Linked DNA regions of Homo sapiens: region 2 is linked to region 1. Evidence: fine-mapped expression QTL. A gene starts in region 1. The other region holds a variant in brackets. All regions are shown on one strand. Distances are between the middles of the regions.

Region 1 (11,241 bases):
GTAATTACCAACAAATGGTTTGCGCTAACGCACATTCCTAAAAATGTAGCATAAAAAATGAGGAAGCTGTCAGGTAATGACCTGGGCTGGCTGTTTAAAGGCACACTCACGATTATCAGACTTACCGTGGAACTGGATGAGGCCTCAGAGACAAGGCCGTCCAACCCGTCATTTCACAGATGAGAAAACAGAGGCCCGGGGAGATCAGGTGGCTCGCAAGGAGATTAGACCCCTGACCCTGCCCCCGTCATTCTCTTGTCTTCTCATCCTCCATCGCCAGATGCTCCTAGAGGTAAGATGGGAATTAGACCACATGCAGGACAGCAGCGCTTGGGAAGGGGCTCTGGTCCTCCCCTGCACTTCACGTCCGCCCAGCACATGTCCATCTGGGATCAGCCACATGACACACTGCACTACGAGCCCTGTAGGTCATTTAGAACCTTGGCCTGTGTCTTGCGGCCTTTGCTGCTCCCTCTACTCTCTGCCTACTTAGTTGAAAAACAGGGAATTGTTTCAAAATCAATTGGCCTAGGTATGTTTGCCTCCTCTCCCTCTCTCTCTCCCTCTCTCTCTCTGTACTAGATTAAACAATGTGGACTTGGGTTTCTCTGGACTCATGATTCTCTGTGCTTCGTCTCCTCCCCTGAAATTGCATTCTAATCCCACATGACATTTGGCTGGTTTCCCCAGCAACCATCTCAAAAGCCATAAACAGCAGATTAAGGCTTTGAGGGGAGACATGAAAGACTGGACATGCCTGGCCAGGAGATGAAAACACAGCCGCTCAAAGGCTAGTTTGTAGTTACATCTTCTGCTAATAAGAAAAGGAAGGATAACTGGTTGTCTCTGGGTATTTTCCACGTGGAAGCAGCCGCTTTTTGTTATTTTAAAATCCCCCAGCACCTCAGACTCCATAGGGTAACATCCGAAACTGGAGTGGTTTGTTGGGTAATTTTTTCTTTTTTTTGACATAGAGTCTCGCTCTGTCACCCAGGCTGGAGTGCAGCGACGTGATCTCGGCTCACTGCAACCTCTGCCTCCTGGGTTCAAGTGATTCTTCTGCCTCAGCCTCCCGAGTAGCTGGGATCACAGATGTGCGCCACCACGCCCAGCTATTTTTTTTTTTTTTTTTTTGTATTTTTAGTAGAGACAGGGTTTTGCCATGTTGGTCAGGCTGGTCTCGAACTCCTGACCTCAGGTGATCCTCTCACCTTGGCCTCCCAAAGTGCTGGGATGTTGGGTAATTGTATAAGCAATTTTCATTGACTAATAAAACTGATTTATATATAAACATCCTCTTTATTTTAAAAATGAAAAATCACCACACTTTTTTTTTATTCCATTAAATTGCTTTCAAAATCTTTTTTTTTCCCTTTCTCCTTTTTTTTTTTTTCTTTTTTTGGAGAAAGGGTCTAGCTCTGTCACTCAGGCTGGAGTGCAGTGATGCGATCTCAGCTCACTGCAGTCTCTACCTCCCAGGCCCAAGTGACCCTCCTACCTCAGCCTCCCAAGCAGCTGGGACTATAGCCATGCACCACCATGGCCGGCTAATTTTTAAAATTTGTTTTGTAGAGATGGGACCTTGCCATGTTGCCCAGGTTAGTCTTGAACTCCTGGACTCAAGTGATTCTCCTGCCTCAGCCTCCCAAAGTTCTGGGATTACAGGCGTGTGCCACCGCCCCCAGCCTGTTGCTTTCCTTAATTGCAACGGGAAACCCTCCATGGTTTTCCCTAGTCCTTGGAATAAAATCCTTACTCTGACCTGTAAGACCTTGCATCTGATCTCTGCCTGCCTCTGACCTCATTCTGTCCACTCTCCCTGAAACCACCCCTGGCTTTGGTTGCTATACTGGCCTTAGGATCTTTGCACAAACCAACCTGCTGCTTCCCCCACCCTATCCCACCCTGCTCCCTTCTAGAGTGCTCCCCGGCCCCAGCTCCAGCCCCTCCTCACCTGCCTGCTTGTCCTTTGGGTCTCAGCTCCCCTGTCCTCCCCTGGCAGATAGGTTTCTGTGGGAGCCCCTGCCCTCCCACCCATAATAATCAATGACACCATATTATTATTTCCTTTAGAACTTTTCAGATGGTCTCACTATTTTGTTACCATCTTTTGTGCTTGGGTCATCTGTCCCTTCAACCCCAGCCCCACTGGAAGGTGAGGTCTACAGGGCAGGGAGGGGCCACCACTGACTCTGCCCCACCTTGCAAAGTGCCTGGCCTATAGTGAACACTCTGTAGCACTTAATGAGTGAATATGCAGCGCGATGAAGAGCCTTTTCATGCTTCTGCCTCCTGGGCTTGGCTGGTGTCTCTGACCCTGGTTATGGGAGGGCTGGTGCAAGGAAGAGCTCCCTTCCCAAACCCCTTACTGTCGGTGTGCACAAACTCATTCTGACAGGGCAGGTGTCCTGTGGCTTAGCCAGCCTGGATTAAGGGACAAAGCAGAAGGTGGGCTTGAGCCATAGATAACAGAAGGCTGAAGACTACCAAACCCCACAGAGAAGGACCTAAGACATCAAAGTCCCCCTTCCCAGCTCCTGCCACTTGGCATAATCATTCTCCCACTTACCTGGCACTTCACAAGTGTGATCTCATTTCTAATCCTCACCGCAACTATACTGAAGTATCTTCTCTTCATTTTACAGAAAGAAACAGTCTCAGAAACTACTCCCATCTTGCGAATAGTAAGCAGTGGAGCCAGGATTTGAACCTGAGACCATGCACTGGGGGCTCTTGCCCCCACAAACAAACCTGGAAAAACTTCCAGAAGCATCCTGAAGTGGCCCCCCCCAGTGCCATTTACTGTGGAACTCAGGCCTCAGGGCCAGAGCAGGCTCCCACTGGACTCCTCTCCCCACATTGTGGCCTCTCCCTGTAACCAGGTCTGCCTCCCCCACAACAGGGAAGCTCTTGAAGCCATGGATTAGCACCATGCTCCTTAAAGACCATACTCAAGTGTCTCAAGTCTTTGATGAGAAAGTAGAATTACAGGATTATACTCTCAATCAATATTTGTTAATACCACCTTGCAGCTGGGCATGGTGGCTCATGCCTGTAATTCCAGTACTTTGGGAGGCCAAGGTGGGAGGATCGCTAGAGCCCAGGAGTTAGAGGCTGCAGTGAGCCGAAATCCCGCCACTGCACTCCAGCTGGGGCAGGAGAGCAAGACCCAGTCTCCATAAAATAAAATGGGTTGGGAGCAGTGGCTCATCCAGCACTTTGAGAGGCCAAGGCTGGTGGATCACTTGAGGTCAAGAGTTGAAGACCATCCTGGCCAACATGGTGAAACCCTGTCCCTACCAAAATATATATATACATACACACACAAAAAAATTAGCCGGGTGTGGTGGCATGTGCCTGTAATCCCAGCTACTCGGGAGGCTAAGCCAAGAGAATCGCTTGAACCAGGAGGCAGAGGTTGCAGTAAGCCGAGATTGTGCCACCACACTCCAGCCTGGGCTGCAGAGTGAGATCCTGTCTCAAAGATAAATAAATAAATAAATACTACCTTGGAGTTTCCTATAAAAATACGTGTTTTCTTCCTATAAAAATCTTAGTTCTTAGCTGAGGAGAGTTTGAAAGCATCTCACAGGCACTGAGCGGCAAGGCAGTCGGCCCAGATGCAATCACTTTCTGGAAATCAATTGAAAATAGAACCGGGAAACCAGCCTCCACTCCTGATACTGTTACTAACCTGCTATAAGACTTTGTGCTCACCTTTGCTTCCTGGGCCTCAGCTTCCCTGTTTCTGAGAGAAGAGATCCCCTCTCCGAGATCTCTTCCCGCTTTCTATAAATATTGATTGAGTACCCGCTGCCTGCCAGGGATATCGCCCTGGGCTCCTGGGATACAGCTGGAATCTCGACAGCCTGGGGAGGAAGGAGCCTTTGATCCTACAGCGGCAAGAGTTCTTGACACTTGCCGGCTGCCAAGCCTGTTTCCTCCCGGTCTAACGTTCTGTGGTTGTCTGAATCTCCAGCTGCCCCTCAAAACCTTCAATCAGATTAGCGCCGTGCTCCTTTAAAGACCCTACTCAAAGTGCCTGGAGCTCACCTGGGTGTGTTTGTGAGGCCCTTTCCCTCTCTTTACCCCGCGGAGGAGTCCGACCTGGAAGCCTCCTGCTGGACTTCTCTACTGGACTGAGTGCCCGGGAGTGCCAGAGCCAGTCCCAAAAAGGACCCAGGAGCGGGGACACCACGGGGAGGCGCCGCCACTCCAGTGTGCGGGACCCTGGCACCCCCGGCGCGTTCTCCGGCCTCCCCAGGATCACCTGCACGGGGCGGGGCCGGGGGCGGGACGCCCCGGGCGGGGGCGGGATCCCAGGGTGGCAGCGCCGGGCGGCGGCGGGGACCCTGGCTGGGAGCGCGGCGGTGCCGGCGGGAGGCCGAGCGGGGCTCGACAGAGCAGGTAGGAGGCGCCTGGTCGCCGGGGTTGCCCGGGGCTGCGGGGAGCGAGGAGCGGTCCGGCCCAGGTGCGGTGGCTTCCTGTCCACCTGCCGGCCGCGCTGGGCGAAGGAGGGCCCGGGGGTGGGGACGAGGGGTCCCCAGTCTCACCCCCACATCTGTTGGAGGAAGTGCCTGGGGTCTGCGCGGGAGGGCGTTGGTCCGGGGTGGTGGGAGGGAGGCTGATCATCTCCAGTGGGTCTTGGAGACGAGGTCGTTTCCTTGTCCCCTCCCCACCCAAGCATCTGGCGGAGGGGCCGAGGCTCGCTGGAAGAAAAGGGAGTCGACCTTGACCCGGCCTGGAGATAAAGGAACTTTTACCCACTTGGGGCCTTATCCGCCCCATCTGTTAAATGGGCGCCTTGATGGGTCTGCCCTATGCAGAGGCCCCTCCGGAAGATCTGCGATTCAGCGAGATGAAAACCCACGGCAGAGAAGGAGCCCAGGGCCGTAGTTTCCATCCACAGCACGTTTGGAGGGGCTCGGGGGTCGCTCATCCAGCAGCGCTCCTGAGGAAGGATGCAGAGACGGCTCCAGTCCTCTGGGTATCCTTGTGGGAGGAGATGGCTGTGTCAAATATGAAGGCTGGATTAGAGAGACCAAGGCAGCCCTTGAGTCTGGGAGAAGATTCTGGAAGGCCCCTTGGAGGAGGTGGCATCTGAGTGGGGCAGGGAAAGGAAAGGTGGTGGTTAGGGCAGCGCTTTGGAGTCCCTGCTTTACCCCTCAGCCAAGGCCGTCCAACAGTCTCGGGCAAGTCCACACTTTTCTCTATGTTTCAGTTTGATGTGCTCCTTAAATGAAACAATTTCTCTGACAGATTAAATCAGATAACTCATAAAGTGTTTAATACAGGGTGGGTATATAGTAGGCACTCAATGAACATGAGCTATTAATGTCTGCTAGCAGCTGCTTGGGGGCAGGGATGATGCCTATTTGGTTCACCCTTGTATCCCCAGCACCAGCACGGTGCCCAGCATGCAGTAGGTCTCAATACATATTTGTCCAATGAATGAATGAATGCATATGAAGTACAATGCTTGGCACAAATAGTGAATTTACAGATGGCTGGTTCTAAGAGGTGGGTATGGATACTAGAGACAGTGGTCTAGGTGGATGGAACAGTTATAAGCAGAAGCCAAGAGCAACAGATTATAGGCACCCCCTCTTATGGTGCATGTGTGTATGTGTGCATGTGTGTGTGTGTGCGCTTGTGTGCATGTGTGTGCATGTGGGTGTGTGCACGTGTGTGCGTGTGTGTGCGTGTGTGTGTTGGTGGTGGTAGTAGAAAGTGACAGGCACAGCCAGAGCACCGGGATAGAAGAGGGCACATAATACCCTGGAATCCTGAGTCCCATCAGCCCGTGGGAGTGGATGATGGGGCAGGAACTCTAGGTAGGCCAATACCTTTACTCATGTCCTCTAAGTGGGGAGAGGGGACAGAAGGGCAGCCAAGAGACACCAAAGGACCATGAATGCCTGGTGGGAGGGGAGGAGGAAATGGGAAGGGGGTTCCCATGACCCCTTCATGGCCTGTGGCTTTCTTCACCTTGTCCCTGCTGGGCTCTGTGCTGGCTGGGGCCGAGATGAGCTGTGGGGAGGCAGCATGGTGCCAAGCCAGCCAGCCGCGGCGCGTGCGGTGAGCTGGGCATATAGTGAGCTGGGCTTGAGGAACTGGCTGGGCTCTGTGGGAATCTAGTGTAGTGGTTTCCTATCAACAGCTTATCCCCTGGGCCAGTTCCTGGGCTCCGTAGCACCATGTGGACTATGGCCATTCCTGCCTGAAGTCAGGAAGGAGCTGTGTCCTTGAGGTAGAGCCACTCTAAGCAAAGCTAGTTTCAGTTTTGTGACGTCCTGGCAGGCAGCTGCAGTGGGTTTCCATCTCCCTGGGTTGACCACGAATATGTGAGAAGCAAAGTTCTAAAGTGCAGGTGGAGACTGGAGGAGTACATGAACAGTTGGGAGGCGCTGGACCCCCTAAGGGGGCCAAGTTCGAAGCTTCTCCTTGTAGCACTTTCCATAATTGCCAACAACCCTTGTTTAATATCGGTGTTTTGCCCTAAGCTCTAGAAAAGCAGGGAGCAAGGCTGCCTTGCTTCTCACTTTGTCCCCACCTAGCATGGTGTGTGGCTCACAGGAGGGGCTCAAGGAATCTATGTGGAATGCATCCACCCAGGCTGAGGATGGAGCTTTTGGCTTTGAGAGAGGAGATTCCGACAACACTGACCATGAGCTTCTTGTTTCATCGTGTGGTCCCCCCACTGTCCCCATCCCCTCTCTCACATTTTGTACCTCCACCCTTTCTCCTGCCATCATCAATGCCTTTTCTCAGAGAAGGATCTAGTGCTAGACATTGACACATGAGGGGAGGCCTCACACTATGTCACTGTTCCCTGGGCTCCCAGAGGAGAAAGTGACGTCCAAGCTGACCCCCCCTCATCCTGTTGCTCCTGGGACACAGGGTCATAGTGTGTTAGAGGTGACAGGATCTCTACAGGGAGCGGAGCGCACTGTCACTCTCAGGGTTTGCAAACCAGGATCTGGACGTGATGTTCAGGGTCACGTAGAGTTGGGGAAGACCATTTCTCCTAACTCCAACAGCTTTCCACACTCAGTAAGCGGTGGCGTTCTCCAGGAATTGTAAATGCAGCAACACTTCCCTTTATTTTTCAGTCATCCAATAAATTGGGATGAAAGGTTAAAAAGAAAAGAAAAGAAAGGTAAAGTGGATTTTAAGTTGCCCAATAAACTCTTTTAATTTCTTAAAAAAAAAACCTCATGTATGATGAAAAGAAAGACCCCAAATTACATCTATTCACCTGACTTTTAAAAAGATATATATATTTGATATTGAAGAGAAATATCCAAAACAGAACTTCTGTAATTTGGGCTAAACCTGTTGCTGGCCAGAAGTGCCTGTGGTAAGATGTCCACTTTGCATGCTGCTGTCCAAGGGCCTCTGAAGTCAGCCCGGAAGCAGCGGCCGGTTTGTTTGTCCTGGACAACCTCCAAGCCTTGTTCTAGTTCCCCTATCGGTTTCCCCATCTCCATCCATCCAGTCTCCTGAGGCAGTCATTGGCATCTCAGCCACTGGAGTCCCGCTGTTTGCTTTGGGACCTAGCAGGATGGATTTCTTGCTGTTTACACTGAAAAGAATTCCTAATCAGAAGTATAGATCCTAGGTGGGCAGGAGGCGGCAGGAAGAAGGAAAGGGGCTGAGCCAAGAAAAGAGCCAGCAGTGAGTCCTGAGCAGGGCAGGGGTGTGGGTGAAGCTGAGGGGGCGGAGCCAGAGGGGGAGCTGGCTAGTGGGGCTGGACCTTCTCATGTGGTTTGAAATTCCCCGAGGTAGTGGCTGCAGTTTAGTCTAAGGAAGGAACAGAGGGTGTGCCAACCTCTAAGACAGAGAGGCCTGTTCTCTAGCTGGGCTCAGGCCTTCTCCGAAGGGCCTCCTGCCTGGGCTGGACACATCTGAACTGTGGGGGCCCTTGCGGGGCTGGTACCTGCTTGGGGCCTCTGGGCTTGGAGGGCTTTGCTCCAAGTAACAGCCCCGAGGAGGCAGAGATGAGCAGGGCGTTAAGCCCTGTACTCTGCCTCAAGCCACATCACCTCTCTGAGCCTCAGTTTCCTAATTTAACCAGAGACGATAGTACCCTCTGCAATCATCTATTAAGAATTTGTGGCCGGGCGCGGTGGCTCACGCCTGTAATCCCAGCACTTTGGGAGGCCGAGGCAGGTGGATCACGAAGTCAGGAGATCAAGACCATCCTGGCTAACATGGTGAAACCCTGTCTCTACTAAAAATACAAAAAATTAGCCGGGCGTGGTGGCGGGCGCCTGTGGTCCCAGCTACTCTGGAGGCTGAGGCAGGAGAATGGCGTGAACCCGGGAAGCGGAGCTTGGAGTGAGCCGAGATGGCACCACTGCACTCCAGCCTGGGCGACAGAGCCAGACTCCATCTCAAAAAAAAAAAAAAAAAAAAAAAAATTTGTTTCCCTTTGCCTCTGAAGAAACTTGTGTCTGGGGAGCTACCTTTTGGGGCAAACAACCTCAGGATTTAAAAATTCGTCCCACAATTCACTCGTCATTGGTTCATTCATTTGTTCATTCACTCAGCCCACCTCTTCAGGGCTTGCTGACACCTGCACTGGGAATTCAGAAAGAGCTCTTTTTGCTGCCTGTCTGGTTTCGTGCACACCCTGGAACACAGTGGCCTTGCTTTGAAGTTTTCATCTGTTCCTCCACCTGGGGTGTTTCCTTAGTCTGTCGTGTAATAAAAAACAAATGTGGGCCCGGGGTGTTGGCTCACGCCAAGGCAGGAGGATCACTTGAGCCCAGGAGTTTGAGACCAATCTGGCCAACATAGGGAGACCCTGTCTCTACAAATAACAAAAACTTTAGCAGGTGTGGTGTTGTGCACCTGTGGTCCCAGCTCCTCGGGAGGCTGAGGTGGGAGAATCACATGAGCCCAGGAGGTTGAGGCTGTCGTGAGCTGTGATGGCACCACTGCACTCCAGCCTGGGTGACAGAGCAAGACCCTATCTCATAGAAAAAAAAAAAAGCAGTTGTGCAACTTTTCCCCTCGCTGCTGTGCCCAATCCCATGACCCTCATGGGGGTTTCCTAAGGTTTCAACTTGCAGTTCATTGAGGAAAACAAATGGTTAACTTGCTTGCGGAGAGCTTCTTAGGTGCCCACACAGTGCAGAATGCTATACAAGCCCTGGCCCTTTAACACCCCCAGAGATGAGTATTATTGTTCCATGGTGCCCTTGGGGATGCATTCTGACTTCCCTGAGCCTGGGGCGATTTTGCCTTCATGGGACCCATGCCCCATAAGAAATATTTAAAATCATCCCGGCGCAGTGGCTCATGCCTATAATCCCAGCACTTTGGGAGGCCGAGGAGGGCGGATCACCTGAGGTCAGGAGTTCAAGACCAGCCTGGCCAACATGGGGAAACACCATCTCTACTAAAAATACAAAAAAAAAAAAAAAAAAAATAGCTGGGCACGGTGGCGAGCACCTGTAATCTCAGCTACTTGGAAGGCTGAGGCAGGAGAATCACTTGAATGGGGGAGGCGGAGGTTGCAGTGAGCCGAGATCGCACCACTGCCCTCCAGCCTGGGTGACAAGAGTGAAAGTCTGTTTCAAAAAAAGAAAAAGAAATACTTACAGTGATATTTATATGACTGCATGGGTATATCAAAACATCTTCTTCAACCTGAAAGTCGCTTTTTCCTCTGGATTTTAAAAGAAATAAAAACATTTTTTGTGGGACCCTAAAAGTAATCTGGGCATCATGCCACCTGCACCTAATGGAGACGTGGGTCCTCCAGCTAACAAGCACAGGGATGAAACTCCAGCCAGGCCCTTCACTGTGGAAGCTCTAACCTCACAGTACTGCCTTGAGCAAGAAAGAAGGAAGGGAGGGGCCGGGCGCGGTGGCTCATGCCTGTAATCCCAGCACTTTGGGAGACTGAGGCGGGCAGATCTCCTGAGGTCAGGAGTTCCAGGCCAGCCTGGCCAACATAGTGAAACCCTGTCTCTACTTAAAATAAAAAATTAGCCAGGTGTGGTGGTACACACCTGTAATCCCAGCTACTTGGGATGCCGAGGGAGGAGAATCGCTTGAACCTGGGAGGCAGAGGTTGCAGTGAGCTGAGATCATGCCACCGCACTCTACTCTGGGGGACAAGAGCGAGACTTCGTCTCAAAAAAAAAAAAAAAGAAAAAGGAGGGAGGGACAAAGAACTGGAGAAGGAGACCAGTTATCCAAAATCTGAACACCTTTAATGATATTAATAGTTCTTGCTGGAAAATGAAACTTGGTTTTTTGTTTCTTTGCCTTGCTGCTTTTTACCTCAACTTTTTAAGATCCATGCCTACTCAATCCTCCTTCTTTGAAATTCTGAATGTTCTGCCTCCTAAGGGTAACTGGTTTGCCCAGAGGATGAAAAGCAATTCATTTATCTTTTTTCTAAGCAGCTCCAAGTTCCTACCTAATTCCCAGTAACAGCGTCATTCGTCACAATAATAACAAGAATAATTAACATTTTTGAGAGCCTTTAATGTGCCAGGCATTCTACGAATCACTTTGCAGCCTTGTCTCCTGATAAGCCTCAGGAACCCTATAAATGAGTGCTATTATCATCTCCATCTTGCAGATGAAGAAACTGAGGCTTGGAAAGACTAAGTGAGTTGCCCAGCTGGCAGTGCCAACATGGATCCACGTCTGTTAGTTTGTTGTCAGACTGTAACCTCCCTGAGGGTGAGGACTGTGCCCGGTTCCCCACTGTCTCCCTATCACCCAACACAATGCCCGCTACATACCAGCTTTCCATGTGGAATGAACAAATGCTTGACAGACCCCGGAGCCTGAACTCTTACCCTTTCCACTATTCTGCCCTTCAGGGAAACTCACCTGCTTCAGGTCCCCTGCTCTTTGTCTTGAAACAATCACTGCCTGTCACTTTGGTGCAGATATTGGCAGCTACAGCCATGCTGGAGTGAGGAATTATAAAAACAGGCAAGGGATCAGGCATTGACTTCTCCACTAATGCCCCTACAGTCCCACCCCCACACCCACCCCCAGCTGGGGGAAACTCCCAAGCAGAGTCTACCTCCTGCTGAGCCTGCTTCTCTCTGGGAACTTAAAGGTGAACTTGGCAGAGTGCCAGGCAGAAAAGCCAAGGAAGCTTCCTGCCCTGGGGCTCATCCCTTCCCCCTCCTTATGCCCTTTCTCCAGGGCACATTACCAGACAGAGAGCTGGCATCCCTGGGGGGGGACAGGAACTCACCTGCCAAA
Region 2 (11,241 bases), 23 kb after region 1:
TCCCGCCTCAGCCTCCCAAGTAGCTGGGATTACAGGCACCACCATCATGCCTGGCTAATTTTTGTTTGTAGAGATGCGGTTTCAACATGTTGGCCAGGCTGGTCTTGAACTCCTGACCTCAGGTGATCCGCCAGCCTTGGCCTCCCAAAGTGCTGGGATTACAAGCATAAGCCACCACACCTGGCCAAGGCCCATAATACTTTTAAGGGCCCATTAAGATGTTTTAATTTCTGGGAGGCGGAGGTTGCAGTGACCCGAGATCGTGCCACTGCACTCCAGCCTGGGCGACAGAGTGAGACTTTGTCTCAGATAAAAAAAGATGTTTTAATTTCTTTAAAATCAAGCAGGGGAAAGAACTTTTAGAGCAGCAAAAAAGTTTCAGTTTTTTTCCCTCGGGTTGGAAAAAAAATAAAATTTTTAGAGCCCACGAAAATGTATTACGCTGGGAGAGCCCCACAGAAGTCATAATGCACCCGACTGAGTCTTCATTCGTTCAGACAGGTTTATTGGGCAGGGTGCTTTCTGTCAGCTCTTATTTGATCCTTACAATCCAGATGAGGAAATGAGGCTCCTGGAGGGTGAATAATTTGTCTACAACAGTGATTTTAAAGGTGACAGAGGCAGAATCTGAACCTAGGTCCATCTGAGCCCAAACCCTTGTCTTCGCCAAGCCACACTTGGCATTTGCAAGCTCATCACTGTATTTAACCCAGTCCTCACAGATTAGGAGCAATTGCCCCGTTTTAAAACTGAGAAAACTGCCCGGGCGTGGTGGCTCATGCCTGTAATCCCAGTACTTTGAGAGGCCGAGGCGGCTGGATCACCTGAGGTCAGGAGTTTGAGACCAGCCTGACCAGCATGGTGAAACCCCGTCTCTGCTAAAAATACAAAATTAGCCGGGCGTGGTGGCATGTGCCTGTAATTCCAGCTACTTGGGAGGCTAAGGCAGGAGAATTGCTTGAACCCAGGAGGCGGAGGTTGCAATGAGCCGAGATCGCACCATTGCACTCTCAAAAAAAAAAAAAAAAAAAAAAAAAATGAGGAAACTAAGTCCTGGAGAGGAGAAGAAAGCGCCTTGCCCACAGTAACTTGGCTAGTTAGTGAAGGAGTCAGAACTAGCTCCCTCATCCTGATCCTCTCTGCACAGCCGCATTGCCCCGTCCAGAGCTTCTCCTGCCCTCCCTCGCTGTCCCCATCCTCCACCCTCACCACTGCCACCCTGCACAGATGGCTCCCCTGCCTGTCCCCCGACCTGCCTTTCTTGGTCCAGTTTCCCAGCCACAGAAAGGCCACTTAGGTCTGTGCGGCATCCACATCCCACCTCCTGACAAAGCTGGGGGCTGGCACTGCTGCTTGAGAGGGTGGGAAGAAAAGACAGGCGGCAGGCCAAGACGAGAGTGTAGGTTTAAATGACACCGCAGGTCCCCCAGACAAACGCCCCTCTGTATCTTTGGGCCTATTGTGACTGGCCACTGGCCAGCTCACACCGTGGGCAGCTTGAACGGCTGGGATTGTTTCCCCAACTCCTGTCCTCTCTGGAGTCCAGCGGCTGCCAGGCCCAGGCTTGGCAGGAAAGGGGAGGGGTGTTCCTTCTGGAATGGAGGGTGTGGAGGCAAACAAGCCTCGGGGAGGGTGTCCTGAACCAAGTGAGAGGCTGGAAGAGTCACAAGGAGGAAGGGGCCAGAGAGGGAGGTCCCTGGTCCCCAGCTGTTCAGTTTGCAGGAGGGCAAACTGCAGTCCAGACAGAACAAGTGGCCTGCCCCAGGTCACACAGAAAGTAAGTAACAGGGGTGAGACTAGAACCCAGGATTCCTAACTCCAGCCCAGGGTTCTTGCCCCCCATCTCAGGCCTCTCTGTTGGAGTTTTCAAGATGGCCGTGTTAAGTAGGTGAGGTAGTGAGCCCCATAGACCAAGACCTTGGGACTCAAAGAAAGGATGTTACACAGGACACAGTGGCTCACACCTGTAATCCCAGCACTTTGGGAGGCTGAGGCAGGTGGATCACCTGAGGTCAGGAGTTCAAGACCAGCCTGGCTAACATGACGAAATCCTGTCTCTACTAAAAGCACACACACACAAAAAAATTAGCTGGGCGTGGTGGTGCATGCCTGTGATCCCAGCTCCTCGTGAGGCTGAGGAAGAAGCATCACATGAATCCAGGAGGTAGAGGTTCCAGTGAGCCAAGATTGCGCCACTGCACTCCAGGCCTGGGCGACAGAGTGAGACTCCGTCTCAAAAAAAATAAAAATAAAAATAAAAAATAAAAAGGATGTCACATGCTAAAATTATAGAGCACTAGATTTCCTAGAATTTCATATTAAAATGCAGATACTCCCAGAGAATTGTCATCCTTAACTCATTAATAACAAACACTTTGTGGTTAGCCAAGCCCTTGGATAAGGCAGAGGAAGAGACAGAGAAACAAAAGCGAGACCACTGAAAGATCCATTAGGGATAAATTCAGATTTTTGGAGTTTCTAAGAAGGCACTGGCCTTGTTTTTTTTTTTTTTTTTTTTTTTTTTTTTTGGTTTTTTTGTTTGTTTTTCGTTTGTAGAGATGGGTTCTCACTACGTTGCCCAGGCTGGCCTCCAGCTCCTGGCCTCAAGTGATCCTCCCACTTCGGCCTCCCAAAGTGCAGGGATTACAGGCTTGAACCACCATGCCCGGCCTGGCCTTGGTTCTGGAAGTCAACACACTTGGTTCCAAAGAGATTGCTGGCACTCATTTGGAGTTGAATTTTTTCCTGCACTCCCATCCCCAATTTTTTTTCTCAGAAGTTTTCAGTTGCCCTGTTCATGGCATAGATATTAACTACATCTACATAGTCTTGCTTTTTGTAGGTGACTATGAAGTGACTCGGAAACCTCAGTTCGAGCTTTTGGGAGACTTAGTGCCTTACGACAGCAGGGTGGTTGCGAGGAAAGCTTAAAGGAGAGATGCATGGGCCGGGGGTCGGGGGTCTTACAAGTCGCCTCCCGGCCATGGCTCCTTTAGGGGTGGTTTGGTTCTTGCTGCTGCTGTTGCGCATTTTGTTTTGAATGAATTAGAAAAGAGGTCTAAAAAATGTACCAAATAGGCCAGGCACAATGGCTCACGCCTGTAATCCCAGCACTTTGGGAGGCTGAGGCGGGTGGATCACTTGAGGCCAGGAGCTGGAGACCAGCCTGGGCAACATAGTGAGACCCTGTTTGTACTAAAAATACAAAAGTATTAGCCAGGCATGGTGGCATGTGCCTGTAATCCCAGCTACTCAGGAGGCTGAGGCACGAGAACCTGGGAGGCAGAGGTTGCAGTGAGCCAAGATCATGCCATTGCACTCCAGCCTGTGGGACACTGTCTCAAAAAAAAAAAAAAAAAAAATTGTACCAAATAAACTACCAATGAACCTTCCTCTGTCTATGTGCTCCCGGGGGCTTTGCTGGCCCTCAGTCTCCCCATTTGTAGAAGAGAGGGCAATGGACACAGGAGTTTTCCAACTGGGGTCTCCAGGATCCTGGGACACGGAGTTGCTTCCTAGAGCCTCCACAGAGGGTGTGTGGTGTGGTGAAGAGAAATTGGGAGTGGGGTGGGAGGGAGGGTAGCTGGAATAGAAAGGAGGAGTTTTAATCCCTAAGCCTGTTGGGGGAGGGAGCTTAGTTTTCTTTTTCTTTCTTTCTTTTTTTTTTTTTTTTTTTTGAGACGGTTTCTTGCTCTGTCTCCCAGGCTGGAGTGCAGTGGTACAATCACAGCTCACTGCAGCCTCAACGTCCTGGGCTCAAGTGATCCTCCCACATCAGCCTCCTAAATAGCTGGGACTACAGGCACATGCTACCATGCCCAGCAAATTTTTATTTTTATTTCTTGTAGAGATTGGGTCCCACTATACCGTTCAAGCTGGCCTCAAGCTCCTGGCCTCAAGCAATCCTCCTGCCCCAGCCTCCCAAAGTGCTGGGATTACAGACAAGAGCCACTACACCTGACTGAGAGCTTTGTTTTCTATCATAAACTCATCCGGCAAACTCTCCAACAGAAGAGAAGAGTAGATCTCCTTTCCATCTAGACAAACACATCAGAAAATCTACAGGTTTCATTTTTTCTTTGGCTGACAGAACCTCCCCCACCCCAGTCAGGCTGGTTACCCGCAGACTGTGCCCGGCAGCGCGGACCTCGGCATCTTCTTGCTCCTTCCTACTGGAGGCTGGAGCCCCTGGTCCCTGGAATCCCTGCCCTTCTCTTGCTTCACCCCTCGCTCACTTTAGTGGGTGCATCCTCCAGGGGCTTCCTGGGAAAAGGTGCATGGGGTAGGGTGGGGGTTTTTTTTTTTTTAAAGACTTCATGCCCAAAAGTGTCCTTTCTCATAGCATCCTGTTCTTGTTTTATAGATGCAATATCTTAGCTGTCTGAATATATCAATGTTTTCTTCTTCTCTGTGCATTGTCTCTACTTGCCTTAAATGCCTCCATCTGTTCATTGTTTTGTTTGCTGTCTGTCATGCTTGGGGCTTTTCTCCTCTCAAAGGTCTTTTCTCCTCTCCTTGGCTATCTGTTCCTATTTAAGAGTAAGACATAGGCTGGGGGTGGTGGCTCATGTCTGTGATCCTAGCAATTTGGGAGGCTGAGGCCAGAGGATCACTTGAGTCTAGGAGTTCAAGACTAGCCTGTGCAACATAGCAAGACCCATCTCTACAAAACTAAAAATTAAAAAAGTTAGCCAGACATGGTGGTGCACACCTGTAGTCCCAGCTGCTCAGGAGGCTGCACTTAGGTCCAGGAATTCAAGGCTGCAGTGAGCTATGATTTGCACCACTGCACTCCAGCCTGAGCAACAGGGTGAGACCTTGTTTCAAAAATAAATAAATAAGGAAACAAAAATCCGTTCAAAACTCTAGGTGAGGTGGGCAGAGCTTGTCAACTAGCAGCCTCTCCATAGGCCGACTGGACAGAACCTGGCCATTGTATTAGAAGATTCTCTAGTCAATCAGTATCTGTAGGTCTATTCCCTTTGGCTGGTCTGTTTCCCAGAGCCTAGGCTTTGACATTCCCATTTTCAGCCAGAGATTAGCCTTTGGCAGAGCTGAGCTTCCCAGACAAATGTGCCTATGAATCTCCTGGGGTCTGGCCGAGGGGTAGGTTCTGGCTAGCAGGCCTGAGTGGAGCTGAGATTCTGCATTCCCAACAAAGCGCCAGAGCTGCCGGTGCTGCTGATCCATGGACCACACTGTGAGGGCCACAGCCTGCGGCAGCACTGCCCAAAATGACTTGACACCATCCTGTGCTGTCCAATGCGGGAGCCACCAGCCACGGCGGGTACTGGGCAGCTGAAATGTGGCTAATGCAACGGAGACACTACATTCTTAATTGTATTTAAGTGTAATTAATTTTTCTTTAACTTGCCATGGCTACATGTGGCTATCATGTCAGGCAGTGCAGGGTTACCTCCTCCTGGCTGCCTCTGCAGACGGGGGCAGAACTCACTCTGTTCTGCAGGGTGGAGGAGGCCCACAGTGGTGAGGACGGAGGGAAGGGGTGGAGGGGGGCAGAGTGGAGCTGCGCCTTAACTTTTGTCTTCCTCTTTCTTTGGGTGGGGGGATGGAGTCTTGCTCTGTCACCAAGCTGGAGTGCAGTGGTGCGATCTCAGCTCACTGCAACCTCCGCCTCACAGGTTCAAGCGATTCTCCTGCCTCAGCCTCCTGAGTAGCTGGGACTACAGGCATGCACCACCACACCTGGCTAATTTTTGTATTTTTAGTAGAGACAGGGTTTCACCATGTTTTGTCAAGTTCCAGCCTGGTCTCAAACCCCTGACCTCAGGTGATCCGCCCGTCTCAGCCTCCCAAAGTGCTGGAATGACAGGCGTGAGCCACTGCGCCCAGGCAGTCTTCCTCTGTTTAGCCCCACCTGGCACCCTGACGTTTGGTGATCTCTGTCACCACTCACTCCTGAGTCTGGGGGGCTTCTTCAGTGCAATCAGCTTTAATTGGTTTCCTAGTCTGTAGGTTTAGGCCTTTGCCTTTTCCAGGCTGTTAAGTCATACTCAGCCGTCGGCTTTTCCGGCTTTCAAACCTGGATTGGCGTCTCTCCAGTGTGGTTGTTTTCTCTTCTGTACCCTTTGGCCTTGAGAGTTGACGCCTCTTGATTCTTGATTCCTTCACTGTCATGTGCCAGGGG[G/C]TTCAGGATGAAGCAGAGATGAATAGTCGTGCTCCATCTAGTTTGCTGAACCAGCCAGAAGTCCTTTCTGCTTTTTTTTTTTTTGAGACGAGGTCTCGCTGCGATGCCAGGCTGGAGAGCAGTGGTGCTATTTTGGCTCACTGCAACCTCCACTTCCCAGGTTCAAGCGATTCTCCTGCCTCAGCCTCCCAAACAGCTGAAATTACAGGCACCCGCCACCACGACTGGCTAATTTTTGTATTTTTAGTAGAGATGGGGTTTCACCATATTGACCAGGCTGGTCTCGAACTCCTGGCCTCAAGTAATCCACCTGCCTTGGCCTCCCAAAATGCTGGGATTACAGGCATGAGCCACTGTGACCGGCCCCTGCTTTCTTTTGTTTAAAAGATGTATCCCAAACTTTGTTTATGTCAAGATAAGGCCAACCGGAATTCATCCTTCTTACCTGTAAGTTCCCTGCAGGCAGGAAATTCATTGTGTTCAGTAGCCTAGAGAAACCACCCTAAGTTACTGCACGGACTGAGAGTCGCTGGGAGAAGTCCAAGGCTCTGCCTGTCTGGGAAAGAGAGCCCAGCTAACCAACCCAGCGCACTTCCTCTAGTCTGTAAAGGGATTGATGAGGCTCATGGAGGGGCCAGACAGCTGAAAGACATCCTTGCAAATCAGAACTGGCCAGAGAGGGGCCTAAAGCAGACAGTCTACTTTAGTAGACATTTACAAGACTAAAGTCCTTACAAGACCAAAGACCTTCTAAGCCCTTGGCAGGGAGGAACTCTGGAAAGGAAGATTTGAGATTGGTTATGAGTTAACTAGGCAAATAAATCCCACAGATGGGATAGAATTCTGGCTGGCAGGGGCTGGGCTGGACCGGTCCTTCAGGACAGGATGAACTATGGATACCTTTGAAGTGAAGTTAGAGGTAAGTTGGTGCTAAGACTTACATGAAATCAGCTTGCTCAGCAGGGAAGGAATCAGGCCTGCCCAGTTGCCTCTTGAGCCCACTCCCTATTCCCCTACCCCAGCTGGCCTAGCGGCTCCAGGACTCTTTCTCTGTCCGTCTCTCACAGCCCTTCTCATGCGCAACCTCCTGATTCGTTGCTCGTGCCGACCACCCCCTGCACACATCGGATCCACCTCAGTGCCTCCCGTGGTGCTTGGCCTGTGTGTCTGCGTGTAAAGGCAGTGTAGATGAAGCAGGAGTGGATTCAGAGTGCACACCTTGGGATCAGACAGATAAGAGCCCAACTCCTATGTAGGAAGCTGAATAATGGCCTCCCAAAAACATCCTCATCCTAATCCCCCAAACCTCAGAATATGTTAGTTTGCACAGCAAAAGGAACTTTGCAGATGTAATTAAGTTCATGACTTTGAGGTGGGGAGATTATCCTGGATTAGCTGAGTGGGCCCAATGTCATCGTAAGGTTCTTTATAAGGGAGAGGCAGGAGGGTCACAGAGAGAGGAAGAGATGTGATGATGGAAGCAGAGATCAGAGAGAGCGAGGTAAGACGATGCTACGCTGCTGGTCTGAAGATGGAGGAAGAAACCACGAGCCAAGGAATGCAGGCAGCTTGCAAGAAAAGGCCCAGAAATGAATTCTCCCCTAGAGCCTCCAGAAGGAACACAGCCCTGCTAACACTTTGATTTTAGCCCACTAAGGCCAACTTTAGAATTCTGACCTCTTAAACTGAAAGAAGATTAATGTGTGTTGTTTTAAGCCACTAAATTTGCAATAATTTGTTAGAGCAGCAATAGGAAACGTATAGATCCTAGCTTTGCCATGTATCAGCACAGATGCCTCAGGCAAGTTTCCTAACTTCTCTGAGCCTCAGCTCCTATGTCTGTAAAATAGGAATAATATATGGAGAAAACATATACAAAGTACTTGGCATGGTAACTGGCACGTAAAAGACACTTGATCAATGGCAGTAATTGTGCTTTTGGTCATCGCCATCGTCGTCATCATCATGGTTATTGGTTGTTTATCCACAGGTATGAAAACAGACTGGACATTTTCCTTCTTATCTAGTTCTTCTTGGATAGGGAGAATAGGAAACTGTTAAGAGGCAGGCCAAATAGCTCTACTCCAGTGATTCTCAAGCAGAGAAAATTTTGTCTCCCAAGGACATTTGGAAATGTCCTGTAACATTTTTGGTTGTTCTAACTGGTGGGATGCTACTGGCATCTAGTGAGCAGAGAGGCCAAGGATGCTGCGATGGTGCTGAATATCCTATAATGCACAGGACAGCCCCTCACACCAAAGAATTACCTGGCCTGAATGTCAGTAGTACCAAGGATGAGAAACTCTGCCATACTCTGAGGCCTGGCTGTACCTCTTGGGCTCAAAATATCAACAGGTAGAAAGAAAAGTGAGCAGAGAGTTGCCAGGCACGGTGGCTCATGCCTGTAATCCCAGCACTTTGGGAGACCAAGGCGGGCGGATCACCTGAGGTCAGGAGTTCGAGACCAGCCTGGCCAACATGGGTGAAACCCCATCTCTACTAAAAATACAAAAAATTAGCTAGGTGTGGTGGCGCACATCTGTAATCCTAGCTACTCAGGAGGCTGAGGCAGGAGAATTGCTTGAACCCGGGAGGTGGAGGTTGCAGTGAGCTGAGATCACGCCACTGGACTCCAGACTGGGTGACAGAGCAAGACTCCGTCTCAGAAAAAAAAAAAAAAAAAAAAAGTGAGCAGGTGAGCAGAATCCTTCCCTAGCAGGGTCACTGACCATCAGAGTGTCCCCAGGAATACTGCTTACCTCCCGGGGACCAGGATTGCCGAGGACGGTTTGGAGTAGGAGATCTGAGTTTGAGACTCAGCTCCTCCACTGACCTGCTGTTAGATTTTGGGCAAGTCCCTTAACCTCTCTGAGCCTCCGTTTCCTATCAGCACAGTGGAGATGAAAAGACCTGCCTCGCTGTGTGGATTGAATGGGGAAGCATGTGAAAGCACAGTGCCTGGCACTTGCATAGGGTCTGCTTGAGTGTGGGCTTCCTTCCCTCCTGGCCTAGAATATCGAGGTGGCATTATTATCCTCTGACATATTCACTGAGGGGCATAAACCCATTAACCCTGTGCCCTCCCCCCGCCCCACAGGGACAGCGGGACACCTGGAGATTTACATGGGAGCTCCTATGGAGGTCGAGGACTCTCAAGAGTTGGGTCCTTGGCTTGAGCCCAGAGACTGAGAGGTAGACGGAAGCCACAGGTCACATTCTAGCTCTCAGTCAATCTCCACCACAATGTCCACGGGTCTCTTCCTCCCACCGACTTCTGGCACTGTGTGTGCCACCCTTTTGGCACCAGCAAAGTAAGCCTTGTGACCACTTTCAGCTGGGGTTTCTATTTATAACTCTTAGCACACTCAGCTTATCATATCTGCAGGTCTTGGGTTAGAAGCTCCTGGAGTCCCCTTTTCTTACAATGTGGGTCACAAAAATCAGAGCAAAGGACATCTGAGCCACCGTTTGACAGGGTGGGGAAGTAAGACTTCCCCTGAAGTCTGTGTGTGGTGGGCCTGAAACCCAGACTTCTGGAGCCACAGGCTGCGGCTTTTGCCATAGGACTGCAGTATGATATTGATCAGGCACCTTTCTGTGGTCAGTGCTGGGCTAGGCATGGGGTGGGCGGTGGGGTGGGGTTGATGCCCAGTACATGTGATTGAAGAAAAGATTCTGAAAGGAAACAATTCCTTTTCTCATTCTTTCGGTCTGAGTTCCTCAGGACATAATCCCCTTGGCCCCTCTGGTTTTTTGGTTTTTATTTTATTTATTTATGTATTGTTCTTTGGTTTAAAACAGACCCACGGCCCTCTTTGCGTCTTCTCAGTCCTATGCACAGGGTGGGCATTGATTGAATGGATGGGAGGACAGATGGACAGAAGAACGGGTGGAAGGACTGTGTGCCCAGTGAGTGGGTGGGCGGGTGGGTGGGTGGGGGCATGAGTGGATAGCAGGATGAAAGAATAGATGGGTAAATGGAGCAGAAAATGTGCTCCCTTATTTCTGGGAACCAACTACAAGGAACACATGTTCAGTATGTAATTGTGTATGGCCTCCAGTTCAGGGGAGCACACGGCAGAATTCCTACCCCAACTTTGGGAGCTGTGATACACAGAGCCATGAACAGACAGGGCAGACGGGGTGGGGAGCTTATGATAAGGGATCCAAGAGGAATAGAGGGTGAAGGAAATGGCCATGAAGGATTCAGGCGGCTCGGGTGACTATGTACCCTACAGAGTGCTTGGAAGTTCATTCCCGGGTTTCCTTTCTTGTGCACTGCTGTTGCCAAATCAAAGCCCCTTCATGGAATCTGCCTCGGTTTGTTCCAGTCTCTAGTGCCTTCTAGGAAGGATCGCTGCTTTCCAGAGTGATGTGCTCACGCTGACTTCCCTCTCCTCACATCCCCTGAGTCCATATCTACAAAGAAGAATAAGCTTTTGGAAGACACTGGTTCTTGTGAAGCTATGAACAGTTCCATGTAACAGAATCACTGGTTGGAAAAGCCCTTAGAGATGATCTCCAAACTGGGCTATTTTACAGGCAGGAAAACCAAGGTCCAGGGAAGGGAGAGGACTTTCCAGGATCAGGTAGCAAATGAGTGACAAGGGAAATCCTGGTCTTCCGAGTCTCAGGTTATGAATCCACAGCTTGCTCTTCCCCTGCCCAGCCACAGCCCCTGTGTCCCACCGGTCCCATCAGGACTTTTTTCTCTTTGGGGGAGATTTCACTATTTCTTCTGTCTCTGCTCTCAGTGGAGATGGAGAGGAAGATCAGGTCCTTCAGAGGTCCTGGTGAATCCCTGCTCAGATCCCCTCCTTGGGACACCAGCGTTCATGGTCTGACTCCCTCACCTCCCTGTTTATACCTGAGTTTGACCAAATGCAGCCCAAAACTTGACCAGACAGAGAACAAGGAATTCAAGCTCCAAAGAGAGCAGGGAGAACACAGACTGGAGCCAGGGAGAAGCGAAGAAGGGCTGGGAACTGGCATGAGCACTCCAGGCACTCTGTTGGGCAATTATGGTATCTCATTTATTCTCACAACCCCACGAGACAGGGGCTGTTATCCCTGTTTTACAAATGAAAGAGCGG

What was found. PIP is the estimated chance that this variant, and not a neighbour inherited with it, causes the effect.
Region 2: its variant is fine-mapped to the expression of NCMAP in tibial nerve (GTEx, PIP 0.96).

The regions. Positions count from the first base shown.
Region 1 is chr1:24,551,763-24,563,003 of GRCh38, forward strand. It overlaps NCMAP (non-compact myelin associated protein), which reads left to right and starts at 4,325. Exons shown (of 4, transcript NM_001010980.5): 1 at 4,325-4,407. NCMAP-DT (NCMAP divergent transcript) reads right to left here and starts at 4,262. Exons shown (of 3, transcript NR_109781.1): 1 at 4,054-4,262; 2 at 126-286.
Region 2 is chr1:24,574,904-24,586,144 of GRCh38, forward strand. All of the region lies in intron 1 of NCMAP (non-compact myelin associated protein), which reads left to right. Among named protein-coding and RNA genes, the nearest start is that of NCMAP, 24 kb to the left of the region's middle. The variant G/C (reference allele first, on the strand shown) is at 6,149.